4 linked regions of the Homo sapiens genome follow. The protein of the gene in region 1 purifies or fractionates together with the protein of each later gene. This does not show direct contact. Each region holds a gene or a part of one and is shown on either strand. Other genes may lie near its edges.

What was found. Proteins that work in one complex are often made in the same cells at the same time.
Region 2: the proteins of TGFB1 (region 1) and NICOL1 purify together in Homo sapiens (affinity purification with mass spectrometry; 3 studies listed by BioGRID and IntAct, with this or other methods). This does not show direct contact.
Region 3: the proteins of TGFB1 (region 1) and NMT1 purify together in Homo sapiens (affinity purification with mass spectrometry; 3 studies listed by BioGRID and IntAct, with this or other methods). This does not show direct contact.
Region 4: the proteins of TGFB1 (region 1) and UBR1 purify together in Homo sapiens (affinity purification with mass spectrometry; 4 studies listed by BioGRID and IntAct, with this or other methods). This does not show direct contact.

Annotation. Positions count from the first base shown.
Region 1 is NC_000019.10:41,333,423-41,336,922, forward strand, and holds part of TGFB1 (transforming growth factor beta-1 proprotein preproprotein), read right to left. Parts: intron 1-3,500. UniProt on the Homo sapiens protein: Transforming growth factor beta-1 proprotein: Precursor of the Latency-associated peptide (LAP) and Transforming growth factor beta-1 (TGF-beta-1) chains, which constitute the regulatory and active subunit of TGF-beta-1, respectively.
Region 2 is NC_000004.12:2,040,797-2,044,464, reverse strand, and holds NICOL1 (NELL2-interacting cell ontogeny regulator 1 precursor), read right to left. Parts: upstream 2,471-3,668; 5' UTR 2,397-2,470; exon of another isoform or gene 2,290-2,396; intron 2,139-2,289; coding exon of another isoform or gene 2,114-2,138; coding exon 1,981-2,113; intron 1,730-1,980; coding exon 1,641-1,729; intron 605-1,640; coding exon 539-604; 3' UTR 501-538; downstream 1-500. UniProt on the Homo sapiens protein: mRNA-binding protein which interacts with a range of target mRNAs including SERPINE1, ACTA2, CCN2 and COL4A1 and may promote extracellular matrix production.
Region 3 is NC_000017.11:45,067,817-45,071,316, reverse strand, and holds part of NMT1 (glycylpeptide N-tetradecanoyltransferase 1), read right to left. Parts: intron 1-3,500.
Region 4 is NC_000015.10:43,019,039-43,022,538, forward strand, and holds part of UBR1 (E3 ubiquitin-protein ligase UBR1), read right to left. Parts: intron 2,338-3,500; coding exon 2,237-2,337; intron 1-2,236. UniProt on the Homo sapiens protein: E3 ubiquitin-protein ligase which is a component of the N-end rule pathway. Recognizes and binds proteins bearing specific N-terminal residues that are destabilizing according to the N-end rule, leading to their ubiquitination and subsequent degradation.

The DNA.
Region 1 (3,500 bases):
CAGGCTGGTCTCGAACTCCTGACCTTGTGATCCGCCCACCTCAGCCTCCCAAAGTGCTGGTATTACAGACCTGAGCCACTGCATCTGGCCTATTTATTCTTTTTAATTTGTTATTCTTTTTAGAGACACGGTCTCACTATGTTGCTGAGGCTGGTGTCGAACTTGGGCTCAAACGATCCGCACGCCTCGGCCTCCCAAAGCATTGGGATTACTGGCATGAGCCACCACACCTGGCCCCTTCACTTCATTTAAACCTTAGCTCAAATGTCCTTCACTCAGGGACCCTTAACTCCTAAAGCAGTGTCTGGAATGCAGTAGGTACTAGTAAATATCAGTTACATGACTGAACATCACCTCCTCAGAGATACCTTTCTGAGCCATCCTTTCCAAAATATCCAAGTGACTGTTAGTTCCATTTAGTGCAATACGGTATTGCAGTTATGCAAGAAAATATAAAAATGTCTGCATTTGAAATGGGGCAAAATCTTAATTACCGATGACGCTGGATGAGAGTTTACGGGCATTCATTATCTTCATTGCTTTTGTATACATTTGAAATTTTCCATAATAAAGGAATTTAAATCAGAATAGGAAAAATAACAGTTCCCAATATCTATTACTCTCTGCCTGCCTTCTTCTGGTTTATTTTACTTCTTAGAACTGTCAAAGAGGCCGGGTGCAGTGGCTCACGCCTGTAATCCCAGCACTTTGGGAGGCCAAGGCGGGTGGATCACCTGAGATCAGGAGATTGAGACCAGCCTGACCAACATGGCGAAACCCCGTCTCTACTAAAAATACAAAAATTAGCTGGGTGTGGCGGTGCTTGTCTGTAATCCCAGCTACTCAGGAGGCTGAGGCACAAGAATCTGCTTGAACCCAAGAAGCAGAGGTTGCAGTGAGCCAAGATCGTGCCACTGCACTCCACCCAGGGCAACAGGGTGAGACTCTGTCTTGAAAAGAAAAGAAAAAAGAAAGAAAAGAAAAGAAAAAGTTGACAATGCCTTTTTTTTTTTTTTTTTTTTTTGAGACAGAGTCTTGCTCCGTCACCCAGGCTGGAGTGCAGTGGTGCAATCTTGGCTCACTGCAACCTCTGCTCATAGATTGGTGGGGCCAGCCAGGCACGGTGGCTCACGCCTGTCATCCCGGCACTTTGGGAGGCTAGGGCAGGCAGACTTGAGGACCCTGTCTTTACTAAAAATTCAAAAATTAGCTGGACCTGGTGGCGGGCACCTGTAATCCCAGCTACTGGGGAGTCTGAGGCAGGAGAATCGCTTGAACCCAACTTCAAGTGGCACCGGATAACCTAGAGGCAAGATAAAGCCTTTCCAAGAGCCACAGAAGCCTGAGAAGGAAGTCAAGAAACTGAGATCCCTGTGAACTCAGCCCGTACCACCCAATTTGGTTGGACCTCAGTTTCCTCATCTGTTCAGAGGTAGGAGCTACTAGATAAAATAAGGTGTTAAGCTGAGGGCCAAGGGGCCATCATGGGCAGGCTTAGGGAGGGCCATGAGTGCCTGAGATCATATGCACATGTGTGTATGTATGCATGTATTTCTGGGAAAAAGAGTCCTGGCTTTCACTTTCTCACAGGAAGTTCTGAACTCACAAAAGGGGAAGAACTAGTGTCCGGAATCTTTTTTTTTTTTTGAGATGGAGTTTCCCTCCTGTTGCCCAGGCTGGAGTGCGATGGTGTGATCTCAGCTCACTGCAACCTCCGTCTCCCGGGTTCAAGCAATTCTCCTGCCTCAGCCTCTCAAGTACCTGGGATTACAGGCATGTGCCACCATGCCTGGCTAATTTTTTGTATTTTTAGTAGAGGCTGGGTTTCACCATGTTGGTCAGGCTGGTCTCAAACTCCTGACCTCAGGTGACCCACCCACCTCGGCCTCCCAAAGTGCTGGGATTACAGGCATGAGCCACCGCACCCGGCTCAGAATCATCTTTAATATGCAGTTCAACCCTAGCTGGGGTTCTGAGATCCTAGGATTTGAACAATCTGTGATACTGTTATCCAAGTCAGCAGCTCTCCACGTGAGCTCCCAGGACCAGCGGCAGCATCACCTGGGAACTATGGGAAATGCAGATTCTCAGGTGGCACCCCAGGCCACTGAAATCAGAAATTGTGTGCAGGACTGGGAACAACAGTCCGTGTTGAACAAGCCGTCTAGGTGATCCTCTGACTCATTTTTTCAGCACACATTCGGGGCCTACCCTGCACCGGGCCTTGGGATACCCACAGCCCTTGCCCTTGCCAAGCCTCTTCCGTCCAGTCTCTCAAGACCTAGGCCAGGTGCAGTGACTCACGCCTGTAATCTCAGCACTTTGGGAAGCCAAGACCGGTGAATCGCTTGAGCCCAAGGAGTTTAAGACCAGCCTGGGGAGCATAGTGAGACCCTGTCGCTACAAAACTTTTTATAAATAAAAGACCCAACAGAGACTGTTTGTTGAGTCAAAGATCTACTTAGGGCCCCAGGGGAGCCCAGAGGCCTCACATCCATCTTGGATGTTGGAGAAAGGGGTTAGGAAGGAGGTAGTGTTCGAGCTGCCTTAAGAACAAATTTTCCTATGAAAGTTTTTTTTTTTTTTTTTTGAGATGGAGTCTTGCTCTGTTGCCCCAGGCTGGAGTGCAGTGGTGCAATCTTGGCTCACTGCAACCTCCATGTCCCAAGTTCAAGCAATTCTCCTGGCTCAGCCTCCCAAGTAGCTGGGATTACAGGCACACACCACCATACCCAGCTAATTTTTCTGTATTTTTAGTAGAGACAGGGTTTCACCATGTTGGACAGGCTGGTCTCGAACTCCTGACCTCATGTGATCCACCCGCCTCAGCCTTCCAAAGTGCTGGGATTACAGGTGTGAGCCACCGCGTCCAGCTGGAAAGTTTCAGATGTACACAAAAGCAGCTTCAACAATGACCAACTCATGGCCAATTTCCATTGCATCTCTACCCCTATCCACTATCTCTTTTTTTTTTTTTTTTGAGACAGGATCTCACTCTGTCACCCAGGCTGGAGTGCAGTGGTGCAATCACAGCTCACTGTGGCCTCCAGCTCCTGGGGCTCAAGCCAACCTCCCACCTCAGCCTCCTGAGTAGCTGGGACAAAAGGTACACACCACCAGGCCCAGCTACTTTTCATATTTTTTTTTTTGGGAGATGGGGTTTCACCATATTGCCCAGGCTGGTCTCCAACTCTTAGGCTCAAGCAATCCTCCTGCCTTGGCCTCCCAAAGTGGTGGGATTATAGCTGTGAGCCACTGCAGCCAGCCGACAATGGTTTATCTCAAAGCACATGCAATCCACCGTGTTGCTTCATCCATAAATATTTCAAATGTATCTCTAATTAAGACTACTTTAAAACACAGTCACAATACCATGTAAGAAAATTAACAATTCCTTGATATCTAGAGGAATATCTAGACAGAGTTCACATTTACCCAACTGTCTCATAAATATCTTTTTTTTTTAAGCCTGTGTAAATAAGGATTCAAGTAAGGTCTAC
Region 2 (3,668 bases), on another chromosome or scaffold:
GGTGTGTGGATGGCAGTACGGCCTCATCAAGTTCCCATCCAGAGCTCCCCAGTGACCAGGGTCCAGGCTCAGGGCTGCAGGTGGGAGCTGGCAGGGGAGATGATGCTGTGTGGGGTGGCCCTGCCCTCTCTCCCCGGGACCCTCTGTCTCCCACAGTCTCAGGCAGCTGGTCCACCAGTTCAGTGGTGCAGGAGCCTGGAGGGGCTCAGCCCTGGGGCAGCTGCTCTGGGGGCTCAGGGGGGTCAGGCCGATTTCTACACTTCCCCAGCCTCAAAACAAGGGGAGGCAGGCAGGGGAGCAGGTACGAGGAAGCACAGGTCACTGAGGTCGGACGTGTGTGTCCACCTCTCCGCACGGGCACTGGTATGGGACAGCAGCCAAGAGGGCTCGCCCAGCTGGAACAGCTGGGGAAACCCAAGCCCAGAGAGGGGCCCAACCCAGGACTGCCGGGGGCGACGCAGGGGCTCTGGTGGCCAGAACAGAGAGACAGGACACAGGCGTGCCACTGGGCATTTATTCACACGGAGCAGCGTGGTCCTCAGTGCCCCGCTGGCCAGCAGGCACACAGGGCACGGCGCTCTGCCTGCAGCAGTAGGGTCTCCGTCTGCAAAGCAACAAGAGGGGTGAGGGTGCAGCCCAGCTGCCCACTGGCATTCCCCTGGGCCTCCACCCACCCAAGGCAGCCCTATCTCCACCGGCTCCTGAGACAGACAAGGTCAGGCCCTGGCTCTAACCCCCACACCCAGAGCCTCCCACTCATCTCTTTCCTCTGCAGTGGCTCCCACTGGTGGGGCCTGCCTGGGGTCTGCTGGTGCCCACGCCATGCCAGCGTGCCCACCTGCCTTCTTCCAGCTCCCACACCACCCGCAGGGGTCCACTGTCCCCCACTCCCTGCCACCCTCATGCCTAAGGATAGGTGGGGGCTGCTCCTCCCAAGAGCTCAGTTCCAGGCTCTGTGAGTGGGGAGAGGGCTCCAGGTCTTAGTCGGAGCCCTCTGGAGTGTTCCCAAGAAGGACACTAGGGCTGGTGGGGGGTGGGACCAGGCAGGGTCTTCCCTGCTTTCTCCTTCCTAGAATTCTCCCTTTCCAGGAAGAAGCTTGAGCCCCGGCACAAACAAAAACTCCTTGGCTGCACCCCATGGCGTGGGGGCTCCCTGTTCATCCAGGCTTGGAGGGGCCTTAACCAACCTGTGCATCCACCCAGGATCCAGACCACCCTGCCCAGCCTGACCCCCCATTCCTGACACTTTCGCCACATCCTCCGGCCTCAGTTTCTCCTCTGCCCTGGGGCCTTGCCGCCCACCTAGGGGATCCTGGATTGGGCTGACAGTCCTTCCCCAGGGTCCAGATCTGTCACAGCCCTCAGGAGTGGCGGTCATAGGACAAAGTGCCCAGTGAGAGCCTTCTGGGGGAGGGGCTAGAAATAGAGTATGCTGGAGAGAGGGGCGTCTCATAGGTGAGACAGGTGCCCAGAATGCCCCTTGGATGACTGGAGCCAGAGGAAGGGGGCAAGGTGCGGCATCTTAAATCGGGGTGAAGGATGAGGGACACTCCACTCCCGCAGGGGGCCTCTTCCTCATCCTCCCTGCCCTCCCCACCCCCTGGGAAGCCCGGGAGGACCGTCGCGCCGCGGGCGCTCACCCGCGCGTCCAGGCTGCAGGCTGTCTTCCGCAGGTCCTGCAGGGCGCGCTGCATGAACTCGAAGGCGTGGCAGTCCACGCATGGGCGGCCTGCGGGGGGCGCGGGTCAGGGTGGAGGGGGCGCAGGGGGGGTCACCCGCAAGGCCCCCACGCACTCTGGGCCCGTCCACCCAGTGCCAAAGAGCGCACGTCCCCACTCCCCAAGCCACCATCTCCCGCGAAGGGGAGGACCCGCTCCCGGGAACAAAGGCGAGGCGCGGTCCTCCCCGCAGAGCCCCGGCCCCGCACGCCCCTGTCGCCAGCCCCGCCCCGCTCCCCGGAACCCGGCCCCCGGCACCTACTCTGCGCGGGGACGGCACTCCCGGCGGGCTCGGCGCGGGCCCGGGCGCCCAGCAGCGCCAGACTCAGCAGCAGCAGCAGCAGCGGCGGCGGCGGCGGTGACATCGGGGACCGGCACGCGGGCGGGGGGGCCATGGCCAGCAGAGGGAGCGGGGCCGCCCTGAAGCCAGCGAGGGGTCAGCGGCGCCCGCCCCGCCCGCCCCGGGCCGGTGAGCCCCCGTCCCCTCCCGCGGGCCCCACGACCCTTGTCCAAGCCCCAGGCCTGGGAGCCCTGGACCCACCCACCCCGGGCCCGGGAGCCCCCTCCCCACCTCCGGTTCCCCGACTCCAGTCCGCCGGTCTCCGGGCCCAGCGAGCCTCTAGTCCGCGCCCCGTATCTAGAAAACGCCCATTCGGACGCCCGCACCACCGCCCTTACCGCGGTTCAGGGACCCCGGGACCAGCAGCGCGGGGACACCGGCAGACGTTCCGCGTCCGGCGCGCAACGCGCATGCGCTCCGACCCGACCCCGCCCGGGTTCCCCATCCGACGTCGTCGTCATGGAAACCCGAGACTGCGCTGGCCGCGGGTTTAGAGGAACCTAGGACGCTCCAGGAATCGGGTGTGCCTGGCCCTGGCCGGGGGCTGCCCCCGGGAGCAGCGTCCAGGCCCATGGCGGATGCAGTCTAGAGGACTGCCTGGAGGAGGCGGCGCCGGGGCGAGACCTCCAGAGCGCAAGGCCGGCGGGAGAAAAGCTGAGGAAGTGGGAAATCTGTGGCTGGAGCTCAGCAGGTCAGGAGCGATCCTGAGGGAGCTGCTCGATGCTCGCGAGGCGCGGGGAGCTGCGCATGCAAACGCTTGGCCTCCGACCGCGGGCGAGTGGGGTCCAGTGTGGGGTCGCACCGCCCGGAGAGAGCTGGTCTGGGGGATCGGCTCGGGGGATCCGCCCTCGCCCGGCTTTTCCCTGGCCCAGCCTCTCCCCGATCCTCGGGCGTCAGGGTGGGCACCAGCCTGCTCGGTCCCTCCCGGCTACCCACCCCCAACCCAGGGTCCTCCTCTCCGCCTCTCGGTGTCCTCGGAGACCGGAGAACCGCTTGCGCGGAGCCCCGACCACAGGTCCTCGGCCTCTCTGTGCCGATTTCAGTCCCGTGAACTCAGGGCTGTTGGCCTTAAAGAGCGCCGTGCAGCCAGTGGCCCCCGGGGGCGCCCGGCAAGTGCGAATCTGGGCCCCGGACGCCCTGGGAGGGATGGTCCCAGCCGTCGGAGCCAGGCCCCCACGCCGACACCGACACAGGCGGTGGCCTCCTCAGAAGGCGCCCCAGGCGCACGTGGGTGCTGGCGCCCCCGCTCCCCCCCCACCCCACCCAGCAGCCCGCGCTGTGGCCGGGAGCTCAGGGACTAACCACACCTCCCGCCAGACCCTCTTCTTGGTGGGCGGAGCCGCACCCCTACCTGGAGGCCGCCCCGCTCGCCGTGCAGGACCCGGAGCCTCGGGCGCCCCCCTCCCCAGCCTAGCCGACCTCTACCCCCAACCCCCGGGGTTCTGGCCGGTGGTCTTCCCGGCACAAGCTGGGACTGCGGACGCACCTGCTTCTCGCGTGGTCAGAGCCGCCCCTGCCCCGGCCGGACGCGGGTGTCCTGACCCTAAGAGTGGGTGGGAGGGTGGGTTGGGGAAGCGTGCCCGTGACTGCCGCTGCCTCCTCCGGGTTGG
Region 3 (3,500 bases), on another chromosome or scaffold:
AGGCTGAAGTAGGAGGACTGCACCATGGCACTACGATCTGGGTGACAGAGTGAAACCTTGTCTCAAATAAAAAATGAATTTTTTGGGCAGAAATTCAAATTTTCCAGAGAAACTTATTAAAATAAACTCTAACCTCTAATATCCTTTTGATTCTACTTTTAGACATCAGGAAATCCTTTTGCAAATCAATTAACTCTTGAAGTATGGTAAGTTCACTAATAATCCTATTAGTACTCAGAAAGACCAAAGAGAGGTGAATGAAATGGCAAAGATGCCCAGAAGGAAATGACATGGCATGAATCAGTATCAGCTGTCTAGTCTCTGTACTTCTGCGGCTAAGGATCACTCAGTGCAATACCCCCAACTCCGCACATTCCCACCAATTAGTTATATCAAAAACTGCTTGTGAATCCCAAATGATGGGAAAAATAAAAACACTTTAGTACTGCCATCAAGGTACCCTGGGGCTGGGCACAGTGGCTCATGCCTGTAATCCCAGCACTTTGGGAGGCCAAGGCGGGCAGATCACCTAAGGTCTGGAGCTCGAGACAAGCCTGGCCAACATAGCAAAACCCTTCTCTACTAAAAATTACAAAAATTGGCCAGGCGCGGTGGCTCACGCCTGTAATTCCAGCTCTTAGGGAGGCCGAGGTGGGCGGATCATGAGGTCAGGAGATCGAGACCATCCTGGCTAATACGGTGAAACCCCGTCTCTACTAAAAATACAAAAAATTAGCCGGGCGTGGTGACGGGCGACTACAGTCCCAGCTACCCAGGAGGCTGAGGCAGGAGAATGGCGTGAGCCCGGGAGACGCAGCTTGCAGTGAGCCAAGACCGCGCCACTGTACTCCAGCCTGGGTGACAGAGCGAGACTCTGTCTCAAAAATAAAAAATAAAAATTAGCTAGGCATGGTGGCGGGTGCCTGTAATCCCAGCTACTTGAGAGGCTGAGGCAAGAGAATAGTTTGAACCCAGGAGGCAGAGGTTGCAGTGAGCCGAGATTACGCCACTGCACTCCAGCCTGGGTGAGAGTGAGACTCCATCTCACACACACACACACAAAAAAAGGTACCCTGGGAGGTCTGTGAAGAGAACAGCAGGTTATAAAAAGGGATTACAAAAGACCACTTTTGCTGCCACCCTCGGCCCTCCCTGGGATAGTAAGCCAGAGTACTGAGGGTGAACGAGCCAATTCTTGTCATGGACGATAACTGCTTTTTAGAGGTCACAAAAGCTCTGGTATACTAAACTCCTTAAAACCGGAATGAGACAAATGTGTATATTCCACACTGAGTTTGTTTGGCGAGTTAGACTTTGACTTTGCAACTCCAAGGTAAAATCAAATGCTGTTCAGAGACCATTATCAAGAATATGTTGAGCAGTGGCTCAATGCTGGCAGAAATCTCACCTACTAGAATGACTTTTTTTTTTTTTTTTGAGATGGAGTCTCACTGTTGCCAGGCTGGAGTGCAGTGGTGCGATTAGAATGACTTCTGAAAATAATATTTGTCTATCATGAAGAGACAAACTGGGTCCCAAGTTTGGGAACGTCCATAGGCTGTTAAATGGAGCCAAAGATAGGATTCACACTGCTGCAGACTCAAGATGCAGAACTCAATTCAGCAGGGGAAAGAAACCTAGCAAGTTCAGAATGGATCCTCTGAGATGTCAAAGAGACCAGTGGAGATGCAAATCTCAAGCCTCACTATAAAAACTAAAGTCTAGCTGGGCGCAGTGGTGGCTCATGCCTGTAATCCCAGCACTTTGGGAGGCTGAGGTGGGCAGATCACGAGATTAGGAGTTCCAAGACCAGCCTGGCCAAGATGGTGAAACCCCATCTCTACTAAAAATACAAAAATCAGCTGGGCGTGGTGGCATGTGCCTGTAGTCCCAGCTATCCAGGAGGCTGAGGCAGGAGAATCACTGGAACCTGGGAGGTGGAGGTTGTGGTGAGCCAAGATCACGCCACTGCACTCCAGCCTGGGCAACAGAGCGAGACTCTGTCTCAAAAATAAATAAATAAATAAATAAATAAATAAATAATAAAAAATAAAGTCTGGCCAGGCATGGTGGCTCACGCCTGTAATCCCAGCACTTTGGGAGGACAAGGAGGATGGATCACGAGGTCAGGAGTTCAAGACCAGCCTGGCCAAGATGGTGAAACCCCGTCTCTACTAAAACTACAAAAGTTAGTTAGGCACAGTGGCAGGCACCTGTAATCCCAGCTACTTAGGAGGCTGACGCAGGAGAGTCGCTTGAACCTGGGTGGCAGAGGTTGCAGTGAGCCGAGATCGCGCCACTGCACTCCAGCCTGGGCGACAGAGTGAGACTCTGTCTCAAAAAAACCCAAAAAAACAAAAAACTAAAGTCCAGGCATGGTGGCTCACGCCTGTAATAATCCCAGCACTTTGGGAGGCCAAGGCAGGTGGACTGCTTGAGGCCAGGAGTTCGAGACCAGCCTGACCAACATGGCAAAACCGTGTCTCTATTAAAAATACAGAAATTAGCCGGGAATGGTGGTGCACACCTGTGATCCCAGCTATTTGGGAGGTTAAGACACAAGAATTGCTTGAACCTGTAAGGCAGAGGTTGTAGTGAGCTAAGATCGTGCCACTGTACTCCAGCCTGGGCGACAGAGTGAGACTCAAAAAAAGAAACAAACAAACAAAAATCGCTAAAGTCTTCATAAGTGAAATCATGGAGGATATAATCCAAGTAAAGGGCTTAGCACAATGCCCACTACGTAGTAATAATAGTAACATTTACTAAACACTTAACCATAGTGACTCCTCAGTTGTCTCTCAAGAGAGCAGCTCTAGAAAGTTGTTGTTCTGTTTATTTTTTTGAGATGGAGGCTCTCTCTGTCGCCCAGACTGAAGTGCAATGGCGCCATCTGGGCTCACTGCAACCTCTGCCTCCCGGGTTCAAGTGATTCTCTTGTCTCAGCCTCCCATGTAGCTGGGACTACAGGTGTGTGCCACCACGCCCAGCTAATTTTTGTATTTTTAGTAGAGATGGGGTTTTGCCATGTTGGCCCGGCTGGTCTCGAACTCCTGACCTCAAGTGATCTGCGCACTTCAGCCTCTCAAAGTGCTGGGACATTTTTGAGGCAAATACTGAGCCTATGGAGGAATTCCGGTTTAGTATTTTTGGCGCTCTCAATAGAGAACACCATATTTTTGTCCCTTAAATGTAACAATCACAAGGACATCTTCTTTGAGGAATTGGAAGAGAGGCCTGAAGGGTAGAGATTTCAGATAAAAAGCTGAAGAGAAAGAGTTAAAGAAGCATCCTCCTGAAGTTACTAAATGTATGGCTCATAAATCTATGGGCTCTATAGGGAAAGGGTTAACTGCCAACTTAGTAAAGCTGGGGAATTTTAGCGTGAGCATATTAGTTGAACAATGTGAAAAATCAGCAAAACTGCTGTGCCATGAGCAGCGAGTCCCTGAAATAGGCTCTCATTTACTTTCCATTTCTTCTGCTTTCCAGTCTCTTCT
Region 4 (3,500 bases), on another chromosome or scaffold:
TTCAAGAAGAATTTTAATAATATCACTATCTTTTTTTTTTTGAGACGGAGTCTCGCTTTGTCGCCCACGCTGGAGTGCAGTGGTGTTATCTCGGCTCACTGCAAGCTCCACCTCCCGGGTTCAAGCCATTCTCCTGCCTCAGCCTCCTGAGTAGCTGGGACTACAGGTACCCGCCACCACACCTGGCTAATGTTTTTTGTATTTTTAGTAGAGACGGGGTTTCACCATGTTAGCCAGGATGGTCTCGATCTCCTGACCTCGTGACCCCGCCGCCTCAGTCTCCCAAAGTGCTGGGATTACAGGCGTGAGCCACCACGCCAGGCCAATAATGATATTACATCATGCTTAAGGACTGTTTCTAATAAAATGGTAAGAAGAGCTGCCCTCTTAAAAGTATAAATCAGTACCAAGATTTCCAATTGATAAGAATGTGAAAAATAACTACTTTATATATTCTGATTATCAAAACAATACTTACCTAAAAACATCAGAATATCTTAATGAATGCAATGAGTGCAGAAGCTCCATAATCCTGGCTTCAGGTTTTTTTTTTTTTTTTTTTGAGACAGAGTTTCACTCTGTCGCCCAGGCTGGAGTGCAGTGGTGCGATCTCGGCTCACTGCAACCTCCGCCCTCAGAGTTCAGGCGATTCTCCTGCCTCAGCCTCCTGAGTAGCTGGGATTACAGGCGCCTGCCACCACGCCTGCCACCACGCCCAGCTAATTTTTTTTTTTTTTTTGTATTTTTAGTAGAGACAGGGTTTCACCATCTTGGCCAGGCTGGTCTTGAACTACTGATCTTGTGATCCACCCGCCTCCGCCTCCCAAAGTGCTGGGATTACAGGCGTGAGCCACCGTGCCTGGCCGGTTTTATGTTTCTATGTGGAGGTTTTCCATTAAAGTAACATTCCTGGCCTCTCTCTCCCCTGCTTATTTAATTCACTCGTCTCCAAAGGCAATGCTATCTACTCAATAGCTCAAGCACCAAATCCAGGAGTCATCTTTGATTTCCTTTTTTCTGAGACAGACTCTTGTTCTGTTACCCAGGCTGGAGTGCAGTGGTGCGATCTTGGCTCACCGCAATCTCCACCTCCCTGGTTCAAGCAATTCTCCTGCCTCAGCCTCCCAAGTAGCTAGGACTACAGGTGTGCCCCACCATGCCTGGCTAATTTTTTGTATTTTTAGCAGAGATGAGGTTTCACCATGTTAGCCAGACTGGTCTCGAACTCCTGACCTCAGGTGATCTGCCTGCCTTGGCCTCCCAAAGTGCTGGGATTACAGGTGCTAGCCACCATGCCCAGCCTCATCTTTGATTTATTTCCTTCATCTCTCCCATCAGACTGATGAGCAAGTACTATAGATTTTATCTTCATACACCTTCGACATGCACCTTAATCAGTTCAGATTCTTACTATCTGCATCTTAGCCTAGGTCATGCTTATTTCATATCAAGATTACTGCAACAGTCTCCTAACAGTTTCCTTACTTGTATGCCTATCCCCCATAATCCATTTACTCCACAGCAGCCAATACCATCTTGTACAAATATAGATTAGGTCACTTAAAATCCTCCAATATTTTCCCATTGTCCTAAAAAATTATCACTTTATGCTGACTTATAAGGACCTACAAGATCCGGCCCCTGGCCACCCCTCTGATCTCATTGCCCACTTTTCCATCCCTCACCCATTATGTTCCAGCCATACTGACCTTCTTTCTGGCCACCACAGAGCTTTTGCACTGCTGTTCCCTCTTCCTGGAGTACTCTTCCAGACTCTTCTAAGACTGACTCCATGTCATTAAGGTCTTAGCTCTAATGTCGTGTTTTGAGAGAGGCCTTCCCTAATTACCCAAAGTAACCCCTTACTCATCTATTGAATTACCCTGATATTTTTGTTTATTTATTTGTTTAATGTCTGTCCCTCAACTGGAGTATATGTTCCATGATAGTAAGCACCTTGTCTGCCTTGTTCCATCTAGAAATCTATAAGTGAGCATGGCACATGGTAGGTTTTCAGTAAAGTTGACTAAATAACGACAAAAAAAATGAATAAATCTTAGTTTATTTTTAAAACTACAATAAAATATAGGAAAATAGAATTATTAACATGAAAAATAAGTGATTATGAAAACCAGTAGTAAATGTCTACAATGGTACAGTGGTTTAACACTGGAGGCAAGCAGAGAATTCTTAAATATTTAAACCAAGATATGATCACTTTACTTTTTTAGTTTACCTGAAGTATCCACGTTATCATGTCCTTCTGGCCTTCTAACTGGGGAATTCCTTTGAGTTTTTCCAAAAGCATTTGTATATTCATGGCTGAACTTCCCAATCCTTTTTTAAAACACAAAATCACACATCATAAATACATAAAGTCATCTCTTGGTATCCTCAGGGAATTGGTTTCAGGACCCCTGTGGACATCAAAGTCCACTAATGCTCAATTCCCTTATGTAAAATGGTGTAGTATTTGCATAAAATCTATACACATGCTTCTGTATGCTTTAAATCATCTCTAGATTACTTATAATGCCTAATACAATGTAAATGCTATGTAAATAGTTATTAGATAATATTGTTTAGGGAATAATGACAAGAAAAAAAAGTCTGTACATGTTCAGTACAGTGACAACCATCCTTTTTCCTTTTTCCCCCTGAATATTTTCAAACTGCGATGGGATGAATCCCTAGATATGGAACCCACAGATATGGAGGGTCAATTATGTCTTCATAATTATGTACAAATTACAATTTCTAGTTAATGTTATTTACATTGATAACCAAGGTTTGCCAATCAATCCCTTAACTTCATTAATTATTCAATGGACAAATCTGCAATTATATGAAGTACTGGATTACAATGATATGATCTACTAAATTTAAAAATGACTTTAAGTCTCTCTCTTACATCTTTTACTGGCACTGCTAAGTGAAAGCTACCCTAAATATCTGTCTCTGGTCTTTCCTCTGCTTGACTCAACATCTAAGCAAAAGTGCTTAATGAGAAACAAAATTGCCAAAAATATTGAAGTGGAGGACTGTATATCCATAAACTGAATAGGTTTTTGATGTCTTCAGGGATCTAAAAAATACAGCATGTAAATAGAAAATGTTTGTCTCCTATTGTTTTTATAATCAACATGCCTGGAATGTGCTTTGAAAAAAACTATCTTAATCAGGTAGCATTTATTAGAAATCTAATTTAAAACTATCCTTTTCTTCCAAGTTGAATACAACGCAAAATGAACGTTATCATTCAGATTTCTATCATTTAAAATTCAGAAACAATATCTTATTAAGACATGTCACTTGAATGCTATGGTTGACACAGCAGCAAATATTTGATAATACTGAGATGAGGAATGAAAGTTAAAAAATACCAATATATGCAACCAAAAAAAAAAAAAAGTGGGGCGATCATGTAGTAAAAAGATTGTAGTAAAGATTATAGTAAGGGATTAAAAAATATATTAGTATACTTGAAAATATTAGTTACA